Linked DNA regions of Homo sapiens: region 2 is linked to region 1. The links come from fine-mapping of genetic effects on gene expression. A gene starts in region 1. The other region holds a variant in brackets. All regions are shown on one strand. Distances are between the middles of the regions. Region 1 holds the start of ACTR3-AS1 (ACTR3 antisense RNA 1). Region 2 overlaps ACTR3-AS1 (ACTR3 antisense RNA 1).

Evidence for each region. PIP is the estimated chance that this variant, and not a neighbour inherited with it, causes the effect. A credible set is the group of variants that fine-mapping cannot tell apart.
Region 2: its variant is the best candidate, but not a certain one, in a credible set for the expression of ACTR3-AS1 in Th2 cells (Schmiedel 2018, PIP 0.51).

Annotation. Positions count from the first base shown.
Region 1 is chr2:113,885,729-113,894,983 of GRCh38, forward strand. It overlaps ACTR3-AS1 (ACTR3 antisense RNA 1), which reads right to left and starts at 5,264. Exons shown (of 5, transcript NR_110174.1): 1 at 5,165-5,264. ACTR3 (actin related protein 3) reads left to right here and starts at 4,361. Exons shown (of 12, transcript NM_005721.5): 1 at 4,361-4,595. The coding sequence starts at 4,552. It overlaps LOC124906071 (a long non-coding RNA gene), which reads right to left and starts at 4,039. Exons shown (of 3, transcript XR_007087205.1): 1 at 2,335-4,039. RefSeq lists enhancers at 874-923, 934-1,043, 3,732-4,041, 4,162-4,251, 4,284-4,939 and 2 more and silencers at 4,332-4,391, 4,632-4,891.
Region 2 is chr2:113,834,869-113,844,123 of GRCh38, forward strand. ACTR3-AS1 (ACTR3 antisense RNA 1) reads right to left here. Exons shown (of 5, transcript NR_110174.1): 3 at 8,396-8,485. Among named protein-coding and RNA genes, the nearest start is that of ACTR3, 51 kb to the right of the region's middle. The variant G/C (reference allele first, on the strand shown) is at 4,154.

The sequences.
Region 1 (9,255 bases):
ATTAAGGCTCTCTGTGAATCTGATTCATCTGCCAATTTGCAAACAGTCAGCCCTGTAGTACGTACCTAAGTTGATTTTTAAAATACTATTTCTCATCTTAAAATAATGGAAATTGAGTGACATAAATTTCCTGGACACTTTTTAAGATCCAAAGACAATTTGCTAATTTGTCGTTACAATTAAAGAGCCCCCCAAAAGGCGTAAGAACTGGATTTTGACTTGGACTTCTGTTCCTTAGTTTCTTTAACATATTGGGGGCCGGGAGTGGTGGCTCACACCTGTAATCCCAGCACTTTGGGAGGCCGAGGCGGGCAGATCACGAGGTCAGGAGATTGAGACCATCCTGGCTAACACAGTGAAACCCCGTCTCTACAAAAAATACAAAAAAAAAAAAAAAAAATTAGCCGGGTATGGTGGCGGGCGCCTGTAGTCCCAGCTACTCAGGAGGCTGAGGTAGGAGAATGGCATGAACCCAGGAGGCAGAGCTTGCAGTGAGCCGAGATCGCACTACACTGCACTCCAGCCTGGGCGACAGAGCAAGATTCCATCTCAAAAAAAAAAAGAAAAAGATATTGGGAAAACTCACTTAAACTCTATGGGCTTCTGTACCACTAAGGCTTCTCAAATTTGATGCAAGTAATGGGAACTTGCTGTGGCTAACTTGAGCCACAGGAGAAGGATACTGCAAGACTCACAAATGCTTGAAAGTTTCGGAACAGGTTTGGAAATGGGTAAGAACCAAGGACCGGGTTGACCTGAACTGAAAGGAAATTGAGGTGCTATTAGGGACAAATATGAAATGAAGGATGAACTGTCTCTGACATCCTTTGCTTCTGTGTTTGGAGATGAGTAAGCAGGGAGTGGGTGCATATGCAAACAGGGTGGTCAGAAATGCTTTGGCCGGATGTGTGACTGAAGGCTATGTGCAGCTGAGGAAGGCTGGGCCACCACAGTAGCAGAGAGGCTGACCAATTTGGCATGCAGCAAGCAGGAAGTAGAAGGGATCTTAAGCAAGCAAAGTGTTTGGGTAGACAAGATTATGAGGAATGAGCACCAATGACATTTCCAACAAGCACTGAAAGCTTCCAAATGCTTCTAACAGTTACTGCCTGTACAAACACAGGACAGTCTTGACTATGTGAGACTGTGACAGTTTCCTCATGCCTATGAAATGAGAGACAGTACTTAGCACTGACATGAGCTTCATATTTGAAGGCAGCAAACTACTGAACCACATGTAGCTTCCGAAATCAAAAGATGCAAACTGGCAGACCACAGGTCAGATATGACATGCAGAAAAAAATTAGTTACTATCTTAGCCTAGTTTGTGCTGCTTACAGAATATCAGAGACTGGGTACTTTATAGAGAACACAAATTATTTTTCATAGTTTTAGAGGCTGGGAAGTCCAAGATCAAAGGGCCATCATCTCGTGAAGGCGTCCCTGCTGTGTCAAAACATGGTGGAAGGCATCACATGGGCAAAAGAGAGAGAGGGAAGCGGGGGCAAACTCCTTTTTATCAGGCACCCAGTCCTGTGATTCATTCATGAAGACAGTGTCCTCCTGGCCTAATCACCTCTTAAAGCTCCCACCTCTCAGCACTGTTGCACTGGAAATTATATTTCTCACACATGAACTTTGGGGAACACATTCAAACCATTACAGTTACCAAAGATAAAAATGCAGATTTCAGATTTCTCTTGGGGAAGAAAAAAGGCTCTGGCAATACCAGGGCTGTATTTCCACATGGCAACAGTTGTCTGTTGCCTTCTGTTGGGTTGTGGGCTCTCACATTGCCATACCCTCCTCATGGCCCCCTTCACTCATAACAGTACCTGCCTAGACCTCGAAGCACTAGTTTCCAACCCTGCTTGAGTTAACTACTTCCATGACAACTGTGCAAGGCCAGAGTGTGGGCAGCTACCTTGAGGGCCACCGGCATGGGCTGCCCAAGTGACCGAGGGCACTAACCTCTGCTCTCGAAACTTCTTTGGTAGGATCTCTTCACTCCTGACTTACTACTTGTAACTGCTGGAAACAACCATTTATTCTACCCCTACTAAACCACATCTGTCTTTTCTGTCAGAGCCAATCTTCAAGCATATGCTTCCTCAAAAGACTTTAATTACCAGGTAGTAGAAGCGGCAGCAAAGAGTCCCCATCTAGCATCTTCTAAAATGTAGTGGAGAAACCAACGACAACGAATCTGAGACAACCAGTTGTTTGACTTCTCTGAAAACAACCTCTAAAAAAAGCCTTCTCTCGTGAATAGCTGCAGACATGCTGGGCACTAATTGATGATGATGCCCTTTAGTGAGTCTCCTCTGCACATACCTGATTCCATTTGGATGCTGGCCCTCACATACTTCTATCTGCGAACTCCGGAACACAGAATATCATACAATGTATGATTCAATCTGGACTCTGCTGGAGCCATTCTCTACAAAGCAGACACAACTTTTTCTTGCCTAAATCCTTTCAAGTTGCTTTATTTTTATTTTTAAACTAATTACCATAAATCTAATTTATCAAGCTGCTTTTAAGATAAACTTTAAAATGCTTAGAGCAGTCTACAAATTCTTGCACTGTTTCACTCTTCCTTATCTCTCAGTCTTCATCTCCCATTGCATCTTCTCTGACTCTTTCATATGGATCTTCTTTCAATTTGTGGAAGAAGCCAAGCTTGTTCCTGCCTCAGGTCCTTGACACTTGCTGTTCACTCTCCTGGGAGACTCTTCCCCCCATCTTAGCTTTTAAATACCAGCTGGTCAGACTCCTTACCTGCCTTCCACCTTCCTCTCATTCTCCCACTCCTCGCCTTCATTTCTCAGAGTCCTCCGCTCTCTTCTTTCTATTGCTCTTAACACAATTTGTCTGTTTTCCGCTAATCTGTAAACTCTACAAGAGCACTTAACTATTTTGCATCCCACCGAATATTCGGAGTCAGCACAGACCCCGTCATAATAGAGTAGGTAAGCAATGCTTACCTGTCAAATGAATGAATGAAACACCCGATTCATCCCCCAAGCCAGCTTAATACATTAGATGATCTTATGGACTGAATAAGACATCCCTCCTTTTAAAGAATATTTTTGTTTTAGCTTCACATCAGCAAACCCCGAACGGTTCATCCTAAGATAAGCCTGGTAGAGAGGAAAGATACTAACCTTCTAGGGTCCTAAAGTGGAACTAGGAACTTATTAGATATGCACATTCTCAGGCATTATTTCCGATAGCCCAGTCAGAGAATTCTGGGGGTATGGCCCAGCAATCTGTTTTAACAAACCTTTCAGGTAATTCTGATACACACTAAAGTTTGAAAGGTTTCTTTAAGGCTTTCCAGTTTTCTTTTCTTTTTTGGAGGGATGGGGGGGGGTCTCCCCATGTTGCCCAGGCTGGTCTCGAACTCCTAGCCTCAAGCTATCCTATCCTCCCACCTCGGCCTTCCAAAGCATTGAAATTACAGGCATGACCCACTGCGGCTCGCCTCCGTTTCTAACTTAAAAAAATTTTCTTTGGAGGGGAGCCTTAATCCTTTCTATTATCCTGCTAGTAGAATCTTACTACTCCTGAGGGTAATCTTTGTCATAATCCAAAAGCCTTGAATAAAGGCCTATTTGTATAGTTATGCAGAATATATTCCTGGGAGGTTTGCCTTCCTAGGAGCACAGGTCGGCCCTGGGAGGTGGGGGTTGGGGGGCAGGGCTGCATTCTAAAGTCCTGTAACAACGCACAAGTACAACTGAATAGAACTCGGAACAAAGGCATCAGGGCCACGGTGCAAGTCTTTGTTCATCCGTTCCCCGACTGCTCACCCTGTCTGATACCGCTCTTTTCCACCCAGAAAAGCAGCCACTCAAGTTTTAAGAATGGATGTATGCCGCGGACGTTTTCGATTAGGCCGTTTTCTCTCAGGCACTGGAGGATATTCGTGGCTGCAGGAGGCGCTTCCACCCTTTCCTCAACCTAGCAAAGAAGTAACTGAAACTAACCCAAGGGTTACAACCGAAAAGCCCCTTCCAGCTTCAGAAGCAGAACTGGAAGCTCGGATAGACTTCTCCGCCTCTACACTCCTGGAAAACCCGCAGTGGATTTCACCAACTTCAGGATCGGAGCCCAGGCAGGCGAACGTACCTTATTGCGCATGCTCGCTAGCCCCTCCCGCTCGGAGCGGAAGGGGGAGCGCTGGGGGCCTGGGCCTGGCCTGGCCGGGGCGTCGGCACCGGCGGCCATCTTGGCTTCCCGGGGAAAGGCGGCGTGAGGGGAAGAAGTTGTAGGGTGGGGGCAGGAGTGAGGAGGAGGGAAGAGAGAGGGGGAGGAGGCCGCGGCGGGGCAGGGCGGGGACTGCCTGCCTGCCTGGGTTGCGGAAGTGATAGCCGCCGACCGAGCCTGCTGCTTTCTTGCTACTGCTTCGGCTTCCCGGCTACCCCCCGGACGGTGAAGGCGGCCCAGCTGTGGATGGTCAGATAGCCCTTGTCTCCCGCCGCCAATCTCTGGCCCCTAGCAGCACGGAGCAGACGGCGGCAGCAGCAGCAGCAGGCGAGGAGGAAGATGGCGGGACGGCTGCCGGCCTGTGTGGTGGACTGTGGCACGGGGTAAGGGGGCTTACGGGCGGGGGTGGGGAAACTGAGGCGGAGGAAGGAAGATGGCGGGGGAGGGAGGAGGCCGGGAAATGAATGGTGCGGCGAGGTGCCGCCGCCGGCTGTCAGTCCTAGACCCGCCGGCCAGCGAGGGGTGGGGCCCGCAGCCAGGGCCTCGCGGGTCCCCTCGTTTCTCCCTCCTGGGACTGGGGCGGGGGCGCGGGCCCGAGATTCAACCCCCAACCCTCCCAGCGGCTTTCTCCGCGCGACCCCTCCCGGCCCTTCCCCCACTACGGTGGGCAGCGCCGCCCAAAGGGCGCTGGGGACGGTCGTCTTGGGGGTGGTCCCCGGGCCCGACCCATCCGGCTTTCCTTTCCCTCCGCGCCCGTTTTTGCCAGTCGGTTTGGGGACCCAGGGGCCGAGCTCGGGGACTGGCCTGGCAGGGGAGCTAGAAAAGAGAAGCGCTCCTGGTAGGTTTGACAAGATCGCTGTGACAACATTCTGCCCAGGGTGTGGGTGGGGAAAGGGAAGAATCGGACTCTGAAAATGGGAACCTACAGTGGGGCTTTCATTTGACCACCCACCTTCTCCTTTCGACTCCTGGTCATTTCCATCTCCCTCTGCGTTTTAACCGGTGAACCAAGTCACATTTTAATTCGAGGGAGAAAGATGTCATGTGTTACTTCTGTAGCCTCAAAAAAGTCCCCCAGTGAGCAAGCGCGCTGCAACTTCCTTAGTTTTGTCAAAGCCGCTTCCTGCTTTCAGTCTTTTATACCCTTATAAGGTAGTTTTTAGTTTCCAACCTGAGCACATCTTACTAGAACTTTTAAGCAGGTTTTAAAGAGACTGAATTACCGGTGCTTGGTGTCCATTTATATGACTTAAAAAAATGTACTTATGTTTCATGGAGTGGGGGAAAGGAAGCACCCTGGAAAATAAACTAATTTAAGTTGTATTCGTTCATTCTGTGATGGTATCTTGAAGGAAGCAGGAAGGTATAGAGGTATATAGGAGGGTGTTTAAGTTGCAAATAGTTACTCGTAGATATGTAGGGTAGTTTGCGAAAATGTAGAGTGGCTTTAAAGTGTGGTCGTTCATTTTGTATTAATAGACGTTTTAGAGAGTTGTACCACACTCATAACTGCATAGAGAATAGACTACCCTTATTTTTATGTAGAATCACTGCTTCAGGATGACATATAGGAAAGTGGTTTTTTTTTCTGTGCTGATGACATCTCTCCAATTCCCAGAACACTCCCAGTTTTTTTTTTTTGAGGGGGAAGTCAGTAAGAGGTGGACTGTCAGGCTTTTTTTTTTATTATTAATTATAATTATTGATTTCATTATTGTTACTTAAAAGATTGTGTGTCCTTCACTCTTTATGTGAAATTTCTTTAATCTTCATTCTCATAACTAGCTAGTGTGGCAGTTTCTAAAATCCCAGTTAGGTAGAGAGAAACCACCAACTTCTTAATATTCTCCTAGGAAAACACTAGCCTTGGAACTTCTATGTATTTTTTTGATGAACACTTTATTTAAAAGTTTTTCCTTAATTCAGTCTCATTTCTCTGAACCAATAATTTTTTTTATTTCTCCCTTCTTAGTCTAATTGGTGAGTATTTTTATGTCTAGGTTCAGTTTTAAAATTAGATTTGGCCTGAGTCAGTAGGATAGGACTTTTCAAATGTGTTTTGTTAAAGTGACGAATATTGCTACATAATTAATGCTTTAGAAATTACTGCGTTTTCAAAAAAATAGTGTAAATAATTGTGGCCCTGAGAAATAATATGGTAACATCTCAAGTAGTATGTTACTTTTCTAATCTCCATTTTCCCCCTTTTGAAATAGTTTCGAATTAGTATACAAGATGTTTCATTGAGATAAACTGTCCTTAAGTGACCTCCTTTCCTAAAGGGCAACCTTGAATTTAAAACATGCTGAATGACCAGTAGGATCGGGAAGAGGGGTTCAATTTAACCTAGGCTATTTCTGTTTTAAAATTACGATTATCACAATAGTGTATTTTTAAGTTATTACATTGGTTTCTCCAATAAGGAGAGGTTATTAACTGCACATTGATGATTTGAATGGAACTGATTAGGAGTCCCCTTGCCACCTCACTCTCTTTTACCATTTGTCACAATCTGAAATTCCCCCTTTAGAGTTTCAGTTATTTTGGTTCTCAAAAGCCTTTTTGGTCTTACAAGTTTCCAGTGGTGCCTCCTGGGAAGTTACACCTTCAGCTTTATTTGCACATGGAGGATAAGTCCTTGAGGTTGAGGACCCTGAGATAAACATCTCTAAGTATGGCCTTAACAGGGAGCTTTTACATTTCAAAATTCTGTGGTCCCCGAATGCAAATTGTGCACCTGTAATTTGTCTAATTTTTTTTATGCTTTAGAGAATGCATTCAGCTCTGAGGTCTCTAAATTACAATTACTCACTTAGTTTAAGTAAAAAGTTATAACCTGAATCAGGTTGCTCATTTCATTCATTATATAAATTAGGGGAAAGGTGGCTGAAAAAAAGTGGCCATCTGTAAAACTTGATCGTCTTAGATAGGAAAGCTGTTAAGAGTTAGGAAACTTGAAACTTAAGCCCAAAACTTTTAGGGATCGTCCAGCAAAACTCAACATATGAATCACCTAGATTCAGGTCATAAAAGAGAATACTTATTTTGAAAAGAATTTGAAAAGAAATGCTTCATTCACATTGATACCCTTATCTACACACTTTTTTGGTCTGTATTGGAAAGCATTGTAAAATACAGTTGGGGCACATAGATTCCCATTGGTGGCTTGAAAACTAAATAACAGAACTCAAACCTGCTATTAGTGGTGAGAAAAGCATTTTCTTTAAAAGGCATTCACAAACATTTTTTAAAAAAACATTGTAACACTTGTATGATCATCCTAAGGTTTTTTTTTTTCTGGGCGGTGGAAGGGATCGTTTTTTAAATGTGTTTTTTGCTTTTTGTTTTTTTGTTTGTTTGTTTGTTTGTTTTGAGATGGAGTCTTGCCCTGTCGCTGGGCTGGAGTGCAGTGGCACGATCTCGGCTCACTGCAACCTCCACCTCCCAGGTTCAAGCTATTCTCCTGCCTCAGCCTCCCGAGTAGCTGGGACTACAGGCACATGCCACCACACCCAGTTAATTTTTCTCTTTTTAGTAGAGATGGGGTTTCACCATGTTGACCAGGATGGTCTCCATCTCCTGACCTCGTGATCCACCCGCCTCAACCTCCCAAAGTGCTGGGATTACAGGTGTGAGCCACCGCGCCCAGCCTTAAAGGTTTTTTTTAAATGCATGTTTTTACTCAAGTTTCTCCATCATTCAAGCCAAATGAGGGCGCTCCTTATTAACTCCTTGTTATATCGTAGCTTGGTTACAGAGCTGCATTGTGAATTTCCTTTTCCCTTTTATGTCTTTTTTTTTCCCCTGGTAAATAAAATATTGGTAAATTAGTTCCACTGATTATGATAGCAGAGGTTAATATAGCCCTATGGTCAAAGTCTTGGATATATTCATATCTGGAGCAGATTAAGGAATTTTGCTAACTGACTTCAACTTCTTAGCAATCTTAAAATGTAAGCTTAAATATCTTGTAGGTGTCAGTGAAAGAGGAGTATGTTCATCTTGTGGCCACAATTCAGCAATTAGTGCAGATAAGAATGATCTTGTTTGAAGAGCAGTGGGGAAAAGCTGGGTAAATGAAGGAAGGTATATGTGGGAAGTTCATGTTTCTTCCATGAATTCTGTGCGTATTGTTTAATAATAATGCTGTTTCTTTTTTTTTTTTTGAGATGGAGTTTTGCTCTCATCGCCCAGGCTGGAGTGCAGTGGCATGATCTTGGCTCACTGCAACCTCCTTCTGCCTCCTGGGTTCAGGTGATTTTCTGCCTCAGCCTCCCAAGTAGCTGGGATTATAGGCGCCCACTACCACGCCCAGCTAAATTTTGTATTTTTAGTAGAGACAGAGTTTCACCATGTTGGCCAGGCTGTTGTTGAACTCCTGACCTCAGGTGATCCACCCACCTCATCCTCCCAGAGTGCTGGGATTACAGACATGAGCCACTGCACCGGCTTAATAATGCTATTTCTTTAGCCATCTCCAAAGGCAGAAATATTCACAATAGCTTCTTAACCAAAAAGCACTCATTGAAATTCTTATTCCTTGATGAGTCATGCTTTGCATGCTGTTTGAAGTAAGTACAACAGACATGCTCCTAGTGAGAAGTCAGACTCTTACTTAGACTTAGCGAAAGACTCTCCCTCCTTTCCTGCCTGCCAATTTTGTGTTGAAATATTGACTTTGGATTGCAAATACTATATTGCGGTGAACGAACTTTCAGGCTTATTGTAAAACACAGTTCAGAATTTTAGGCACAGAACGGAAAGGTCCTGTGGAGGACCTGCTGGCCATGCTTTCTGTGACAGCTATTTTTTAACCTAATTTTATAAGTGAAAAAACAGAATGAGAGAATTTAAATTACCTTTTTGATGCCGTCTACCTGGCAGGTGGTTCGATCTGCTATTTGGACCTGAGTTCTGTATTTAAGTCCTGTGTTCTTTCTGTTAACACTCCGGGGACTCCTGACTGCCTTTTCAGAACTTTATGTGTTGCTTCATTGTTGTTAGTAAAGTTAACTGTATTTCTGTTTAAAGAACTCTTACAAA
Region 2 (9,255 bases), 51 kb before region 1:
AAACAGCCAACTGCAGGTGGGAGGCGGTGGCTCATGCCTGTAATCCCAGCACTTTGGGAGGCCGAGGCGGGCGGATCACCTGAGGTTGGGAGGTTGAGACCAGCCTGACCAACATGGAGAAACCCTGTCTCTACTAAAATGCAAAATTAGCTGGGCGTGGCAGCACATGCCTGTAATCCTAACTACTCGGGAGGCCGAGGCAGGAGAATCCCTTGAACCTGGGAGGCAGAGGTTGCAGTGAGCCGAGACTGTGCCACTGCACTCCAGCCTTGGCAACAGAGTGAAATCCGTCTCAAAAAAAAAAAAAAAAAGAGAGAGAGAGAGAAAGAAAGAGACAGTGAACGAGGACAAACAACTGTGCATGTGTATTTCCAGACCATTTTCAATTGGAATAAAAAATCCGACCTTTTCTGAATCCAAAGCCCTTCTTGATAATGAATATTCACTGTCGCCCTCCATATGCAAATAGCAAAGTTATATGATTATATGTATACTATAAAACAAAATGACCCTTCAAACTTTCTTATTATTTTATTTATTTATTTATTTATAGAGACAGGGTCTCACTATGTTGCCCAGGTTGGTCTCCAACTTCTGGGCTCAAGCAAGCCTCCCACCTCAGCCTCCCAAAATGCTAGAATTACACGTGTGAGCCACCACACCTGGCCTTGATGTTTTGATATATGTATCAAAACATATTGATACATATATCAATATGTGATTGTAAAATGATCACCACAACAAAATTAATTGACATATCCATCACCTCACATAGTTACCATTTTCATGGCTCACTGCAGCCTCAACTTCCTGCACTTGGGTGATCCTCCCACCTCAGCCTCCCGAGTAACTGGAACCATACATGCATGTCTCCCATCCTGGCTAATTTTGTAATTTTTGTAGAGATGGGTTTTCGCCATGTTGCCCAGGCTGGTCTCCAACTCCTAGGCTCCAGAGATCTGCCCTCCCTCAGCCTCCCAAAGTGCTGGGATTACAGGTGTGATCCACTGTGCCCAGCTTCTTTTTTATTCTTGTTTTTACTTTGCATTCTCTTTCCTTTTGGATATTTCTTCTTTCTTTTCTTTTCTTCTTTTTTTTTTGAGATGGAGTCTCGCTCTGTCGCCCAAGCTGGAGTGTAGTGGCATGATCTCGGCTTACTGCAAGCTCCGTCTCACAGGTTCAAGCGATTCTCCGGCCTCAGCCTCCTAAGTAGCTGGGATTACAGGCACGGGCCAACATGCCCAGCTAATATTTTTGTATTTTTAGTAGAGAAGAGGTTTCACCATTTTGGCCTGGCTGGTCTCAAACTCCTGAGGTCGTGATCTGCCCACCTCAGCCTCCCGAAGTGCTGGGATTACAAGCTTGAGCCACTGCGCCCGGCCTCTTCTTTCTTTTCTAACTTCTTGAATTGTATATTAAATGCTTAATTGACTTATCCTTAATATTTCTTTTTGGTGTAAACACATTTTAAGGCTCTATCACTCAAGATGAAACTTTAGCTGAGGGTGGCATAAAAGCAGATTTCCTGGGTCTGGATCCCAGCTCTTCACTTACTAGCTACAAGACCTTGGGCAAGTTATTTCATTGCTCTGTGCCTTGGTTTTTCCTTCTTGTTCAAATCACTTATTCTTTGTCCTTATTATGTTTTAAATAGTTCATCCATCATTATCTGATGTGCATGTGTCAATTCTCCCAGTTTGAGAATTAACATATTCCAGGACATTTTTTCTTTTTTTAGTGCATACAAGTACATGATGATTCTATCCTCTTGGTGAACTGTTCCTTATCAGGGTGTTGTATCCCTCTTTATTTTTTTATTTTTTATTTTTTTTAGACGGAGTCTCGCTCTGTTGCCCAGGCTGGAGCGCAGTGGCGCAATCTTGGCTCATTGCAACCTCCGCCTCCTGGGTTCAAACAATTCTCCTGCCTCAGCCTCCCAAGTAGCTGGGACTACAGGCACGGCTAATTTTTTGTATTTTTAGTAGAGACAGGGTTTCACCATATTAGCCAGGATGATCTCGATCTCTTGACCTTGTGATCTGCCCGCCTCGGCCTCCCAAAGTGCTGGGATTACAGGTGTGAGCCACCGCACACGGCCCCCTCTTTATTCTTAATAATGCTTTTTTGTCTTAAATTGTATTTTTGCAAATATTAGCATTTTTATACCAGGTTTCTCTTGTTTGGAATAGGTGTTGACAGGTTTACATTTTTTCATATCTTCATTTTCAAAGACACCCAGCTAGCGTGTGGCAAAGCCAGTTTTATTCCTGCATCCCCTAACCCCCAGTCTATTATTCTTTTTTTCGTGTCTCAATGTCTCAGGTCCACCTTCTTTCATGATTCAACATAAGTCACTCTTCACTTTGAGGCTCCCCCAGCAACTCAGTCTATCATGATTGCTTCCTCTTCTGAGTGCTCAATGTCCACAGTACCCATTTGGTCCTTAAAATCTTAAAAGTATGCTACCTTGGTTTTGTGTTGATCTCTATCCTGGAAGTTCCTTGAAAGCTACAATATGAATTATATCTCTTCTGCAGACTGCTCCAAAATTACTTTACTAAGGGGGGCTAGTGGTACAATCTGATTGGGAAGGGAGTGCGTAGGGGACTTGTCTGGAAGCTGCATTTGCATAGCAGACACTTCATTTTATTTGCAGTGATTGAGGGTGAGTGTTACAGAGTTTAGGAAGAGGTAAGCTAATGCCCCCGTATACCACTCTTTCAGCTGTCACTGACCTCTACCGGCTTGCCTATGATAGTGGTTTCCAACAAATTTAGCTGCTCTTCAAAATCACCAAGGGAGTAAGATTTTTTTAAGTACTTATTTTCAGATCTCCCTCCAGAGCCACTGAGTCAGAATCTCTTGAGTGGAGCTTGGGAACCTAGTGTTTAAGGAGCTCTGTTGAAATTCAAGACATCTAAGCACCTGGTCCGTAGGCAATAACTGCTTGTAAATACAGGATGGGTACCAAGTCGGGAAGCAGAAAAGCTTTAATTGACATTCTATAATAATATATAAGAAAGTGATATCTGTTTCCAAACTCCCATTGCTACAAATGGTTTAGTGTAAAATAAGCTCTATTCAATCCCATTTAGTAAGCATTTCTATATGAAAGAGGCATATAATAATAACAAAAGTAATATCTGACGTCCGCTGAACACCTAATACACACCAGCACTTTGTCGAATGTTGTATGTACACTGTCTCATTTATTATTCACCAGGCTTCTCTGTGTGCTCTATAATCAGGGTCAACTTATCCATTAGGCTCACTAGGCACTATGTCAAGGGTCCATGACACTATTAGGGGCTCATGAAAATGTTTTTGTTTATTTTAGCATCAGAAAGGAAAAAAAAAGAACAGAATCCCTGTTGAATTATATTAGCCTTTTTACCAACACAGTCACAAAATATAGTTGGTAATCATTTTCATGGAGAAAGGGGCCTATGAAGGCAAAAGTTCCTTGGGCCTCTGAAAGTCATAATGCAAGCTTCACCATAATCATTCCCATTTAACAGCTGAGGAAGCTGAAGATCAATGAAGATGAAAATTTAAACTTGCCCAAAAGCCACATCTCTAGGAAACGGCAGAAGTGACCTTTGGACACAGGTCTGTGGGACTCTACTGATGACCCTTTCAACCACCACACTGTATACTGCACAGCATTATTTAGCAAAGAAGCTCATACTAAGTTGAGAAAACAGGTTTGTTGTACATTAACCAGTTAGAAAATCCTTCAAGAAAAGAATATAAATTAATGTCTAAATTCAGGGACAGACCCAGATTGCGTGGGGCCTGAGGCTTTTACAATTTAAATGATCTTCTTAAGACAATACAAAATTATAAATAAAAATTAGCCACACAGTCTTGGAGGGGACTGTCCAAGTTAAGGGGCCCTCAAGTGTAAGCCTCCTTAGCAACATGGCCCATCCGCCCTTGCCTAAATGTCTTTGGGTCTAAAGAAAGCCAGGGTAGGAATCAGTGTAAACCAGGGCATATCAGCAAAGGACTCAAGGAGGAAATGGGACTTTGCAGTATGGCTGTGAGTTGGGCACCCTGAGTGCAAACCCTGGGGGCCAAGTGTGAGCATAACATGTTTAGAGGAAAGCAGAGAACTCACCCAACTGAACCTACTGTGTCCGGGGTAGGGAGA[G/C]GATCCAGGGTTCCCTGAGGAAAGTGAGGCCTGTTTTGTTTAATTCATTAATTTATTTATTTTTAAGACAGGGTCTCACTCTTTCACCCGGCTGGGTGCAGTGGTGCAATCATGGCTCACTGCAGCCTTGACCTCCCAGGCTCAAACAATCCTCCCACCTCAGCCTGCTAAGTAGTTGGGAACTACAAATGGCTAGTTTTGTTTTTTGTTTTCAATTTATTTTTTTGTAGAGATGTGGGGGGAGGAGTTCTCCCTGTGTTGCCCAGGCTGGCCTTGAACTCCTGGACTCAAGCAGTCCCCCAGCCTTGGCCTCCCAAAGTGCTGGAATTACAGGTGTGAGCACTGTGCCTGTTTTAAATACCAGGATGGAGGCCAGTGGGAATCCTTATACTTATTCCTGGGTCTTATGTCATTACCTAATAGTAGGGCAGGACCCTTGGGAGGGTCAGGAAGAGGCAAAGAGGTCTAATTGGGGGGATTAATCTGAGTGTGTTTTAATAAGCACCTGAAATTATGGTTGGCTGGGAGGAGGGAAGAGAAAAAAAATGAGTAAGCGTCAAAAAGGCTCAATCAAGTAGATAATGAGGACTACAGGGGAAGAAGAGTCAGCGATCATTTATGCATTTCGAGCATGGATCACTGAAGGAACGGTGTGAGATTGCCAGAAATGTAGAGACCGGTTACGTTTGGTTCTAGAGAAGTTAAATCCAACAAAATAATCACAACAGAGAGGCATCCTGAACTAACTTGACCAGACCCGCTGGCCTTAGCCTTTGCTGTTGTTTTCCAGTTACCAATGCCCCATCTGATTGACACTTGTTTTTCTCAGTTGTGTTAACAGCATTAAGACATTACAGTCAAGGTCGGCCTCCTCTTCTTTCTGGCTAGGAAGCTGTGGTGTTATTTTATACACACACACACACACACACACACACACACACACACACACACACACACATTTCCGTCCACAGTTCCTGGACCATATCTCCCAGAGCCCTCGTTACAACCTTTCGTTATAAGGTTGGGTGTGTTAGGCCTCAGGAGCAGATTCAGAAAACAGAATCTCTCTGACCTTTTCCTGCCCTTCTTTCACCTTCTGGAAGGCAGGACTCTAGTCTTACCCCACCTTTCTGACTACGGGTCTTAAGATCCTCTCCAGAGATGCTCCTGCCCTATAAGCCGGGGGAAGAAATGCTGATATCATGAATCTTCCACAAAAACCCAAGAGGACTGGATTCAGGCAGCTTCCAGATAGCTGAACACACGGAGGTTCCTGGATGGTGACCGCCAAGGGAGGGGATGGGAGTTCCGCGCCTCTTCCCCCATACCTCACCCTGTGCATCTCTCCGTCTGTATCCTTTGTAATGCCCTTTATAACAAACCAGTAAACTTTTTTCCTGAGTTCTGTGAGCTGCTCTAGCAAATTAACTGAACGCAAAGAGAAGGTGTAGGAACCCCAGCTTGAAGCTGGTTGGTCGGAAGTCCCAGAGGCCCACATCTGCAATGGGTGTCTGTGGAATGGGCAGTTTTGGGGACTAAGCCCCAAGCCGATAGAATCTGATGCTATCTCCAGGTAGACAGTGTCGGAACTGAATTGGAGGACATCCAGCTGGTGTCTGCTGCTATGTGAGTCGGGAAATTCCCCGCATATTTAGGCAAAGAAGTCTTCTTCTTTGTTGTTGATTGCTGCTGAGGTGGTGTGAGGGCCAAGAGAAAACTGGGTTTGAGAGTATTTTTCGAAACAGAAGCACTTTGCCTTTAACATGGCTTTTGTTAAACACCATCATTAGAAGATTAGTTATAATTCAACTCCCAGAGTTACAACCCTCTCCTCTGCCTTTCCAGGTGAGCGGCCAGAGGACTAGTCACAACGAAAATAGAAAGAGGAGAAGGGATTCAAGAGGGCATTACAGAGGTATAAAAATCAGAGGCCCAGAGCAGTGGCTTATGCCTGTAATCTCAGCACTTTGGGAGGCCGTGGTGGGCAGATCACCTGAGGTCAGGAGTTCGAGACCAGCCTGGCTAACATGGTGAAACCCTGTCTCTACTAAAAATACCAAAAATTAGCCGGGTGTAGTGGCGGGTGCCTGTAATCCCAGCTCCTCAGGAGGCTGAGACAGGAGAATCGCTTGAACCTGGGAGGCAGAGGTTGCAGTAAGCCGGGATCGTGCCATTGCACTCCAGCCTGGGTGACAAGAGCGAAACTCCACCTCAAAAAATATATATATATATAAATAAATAAAAAATCAAGGAATTATACAGAAATGGCGAAAGAAAGGAAAAAAGTTAGATTGGTGAACAAAGTGCAAAGAAGTCAGCAAAATGAGGAGGAGGCTCAAAACTAGAACTTGCTTTTTGGGATATAAATTTCTCTGTAAGGAATCCTCTCCTCGCGCCCCCCACAGGAAGTGGGGAACATCTTTCCTTTACCCCCTGTGACTCCCCAGGTTGCAGTCAGTGCTTCCCATTGCAGAGCCTACCAGGTTACCAGAGACCAAGGGAGCTGGGAAATGCTAGTTCCTTTTTATAGAGGAAGAGTAAAGAAGAGTTAACACACAGAGGGGTTAACTATCCTTTTGCTCCTGATTTGTAACTTTATTATATTGTGATCAGGGAATATGGTCTATATAATAATGACTGTGTTGTTTGTTGACTCACTTTGAGACATAAGACATAGTCAATTTTTGTAAACTTTTTTTTTTTCAGATGGAGTCTTGCTTTGTCACCCAGGCTGGAATGCAGTGGCGCGATCTCGGCTCACTGCAATCTCCGCCTCCTGGGTTAAGCTATTCTCCTGTCTCAGCCTCCTGAGTAGCTGGGACTACAGGCATGTGCCACCATTCCTGGCTAATTTTTGTATTTTTAGTAGAGATGGGGTTTCACCATGTTGGCCAGGCTGGTCTCAAACTCCTGACCTCAAGTGATCCGCCTGCCTCGGCCTCCCAAAGTGCTGGGATTACAGGTGTGAGCCACCACATCCAGCCAATTTTTGTAAATGTTCTAAGTGTTGTTGTGTATTCTTTATTTGTGTGTGTGTGTGTGTGTGTGTAGTGTTCCACATATTTCCGTAAGATTTGGATCATTAATTGTGTTATTTGCACAATAAAAATAAATGTTTTTGAGTCATATGACTATTTTGTCTGCATGAAGTCAGTTTTTGAAAGAGGTTTTTACCAGCCAGGTACAGTGGCTCATGCCTGTAATCCCAGAACTTTGGGAGGCTGAGGCAGGTGGATCACCTGAGGTCAGGAGTTTGAGAACAGCCTGACCAACATGGAGAAACCCCATCTCTACTAAAAATACAAAATTAGCCAGGCATGGTGGCACATGCCTGTAATCCCAGCTACTCAGGAAGCTGAGGCAGGGAAATCGCTTGAACCTGGGAGGCCGAGGTTGTGGTGAGCCCAGAGAGCACCATTACACGCCATTACACTCCAGCCTGGGCGATAAGAGTGAAACTCCGTCTCAAAAAAAAAAAAAAAAGAGGTTTCTAAAAATCTCTCATTATGATTATGGATTTATCAAATTCATATGTCATTTATATGGAGAATAGTCTATAAAGGAACATTAATGGAAATAGTTGGAAGGCTGGTGCAGTGGTCTGGGTGAGACATGGTGGTAGTTTGGCCTAAGATGGTAAGAATGTGGAGAGAACAGGAGAGAAAGCAATTAATCCTGATTCTTAGGTTTCTGGTGTGGACAAATGATGGTATGGTTGGTGGTACCAATTACCAAATGGCATGCCACTGAGCAATGTTTTTCCTTGAGCACATTACATAAACTCTCTGGATTCTATTTTCTTATTTATCAAAATGGATATAACAATAGATTGTATTTCATAGTGTTATTGGGATGGTGAGAAGAGTTAATATATGTAAAGTGCTTAGCACAATATCTAAGTCGTTGTTCAATGTGTGCTTTTGTTATTACCAATTAGGATATAGTTAAAGGAGGGAAACTTTGGGTTTGAAGTGGGAAATGAAGTTTTTCTGCGGAGGCTCATGACATGTGAGTTGTTTTATAAGTTATCTTTCAGTAAAGAGGGTCTGAGTCATCTTCGCAAATGCTGGCAGGGCTGAAAGAGAATGGAAGTGAGAGAAGACCACTGGAAGGTCAAAGGCAACTTTCAAGAAGTAGCAGAATGCAGAAAAGATTTTCTTAAGGTTGGGAAGGTAAATTATGGTTTCAGGCCGAGAATGGGGAGACGTTTCACAAAGAGATGAAATAGCTGACTCTACTTACTTTCCTTTTTTTTTTTTTTCAGTGTCCCAGTGTGATTGATTCTGGGTAAGATAGCCAGCCGTCCGCAAAACGCTGCAGGAGAGCACAACTCTGGGAAAAAATGACAGCAATTAACAGAGTAACAGGAACTTACAGAACAACAGTAACTTACCTCGAGTGTGATTTATCATATGATTTTAGTAAACAGATTACGCTAGCGACAGTTGCTAAGAAGTCTGTTTTAAATTTTTGGTGCAAAAGGAAAAAGTGATTAACTTGACAAAGATTCATAAGCACATATGTTTCCAGCTCTGAGCTGTGGGGCAGAATGAAAACTGAAGTTGTGGATTCTATAGTATTCACTGCCTTGGCAGATTTCGATGTGAGATTATGCATGACTACACCCCTCCCACAAGTTTCCATAGGCTTAGGAATTTTCTTATTAAGGCTGTTATGCAACCTGCATTTTAGCAAGGGCATACAAACGCACGGAAAGAATATTCCCATACAGAAATCTTTTTTTTAACTTTTGTTTTTGTTTTTGAGACAGTCTCGCTCTGTCGCCCAGGCTGGAGTACAGTGGTGTGATCTCGGCTCACTGCCACCTCCGCCCCCAGGTTCAAGCTATTCTCATGCCTCAGCCTCCTGAGTAGCTGGGATTACAGGCATGTGCTACCACACCAGGCTAATTTTTGTATTTGTAGTAGAGATGGAGTTTCACCATGTTGGCTAGGCTGGTCTTGAAATCCTGACCTCAGTTGATCCACCCACCTTGGCCTCCCAAAGTGCTAGGATTACAGGCATGATCCACCGTGCCCGTCCCCCATATACAAATCTTGACTTATCTGTATGCCCCTTCACTGGGTTAGTGCTGAGTTGCT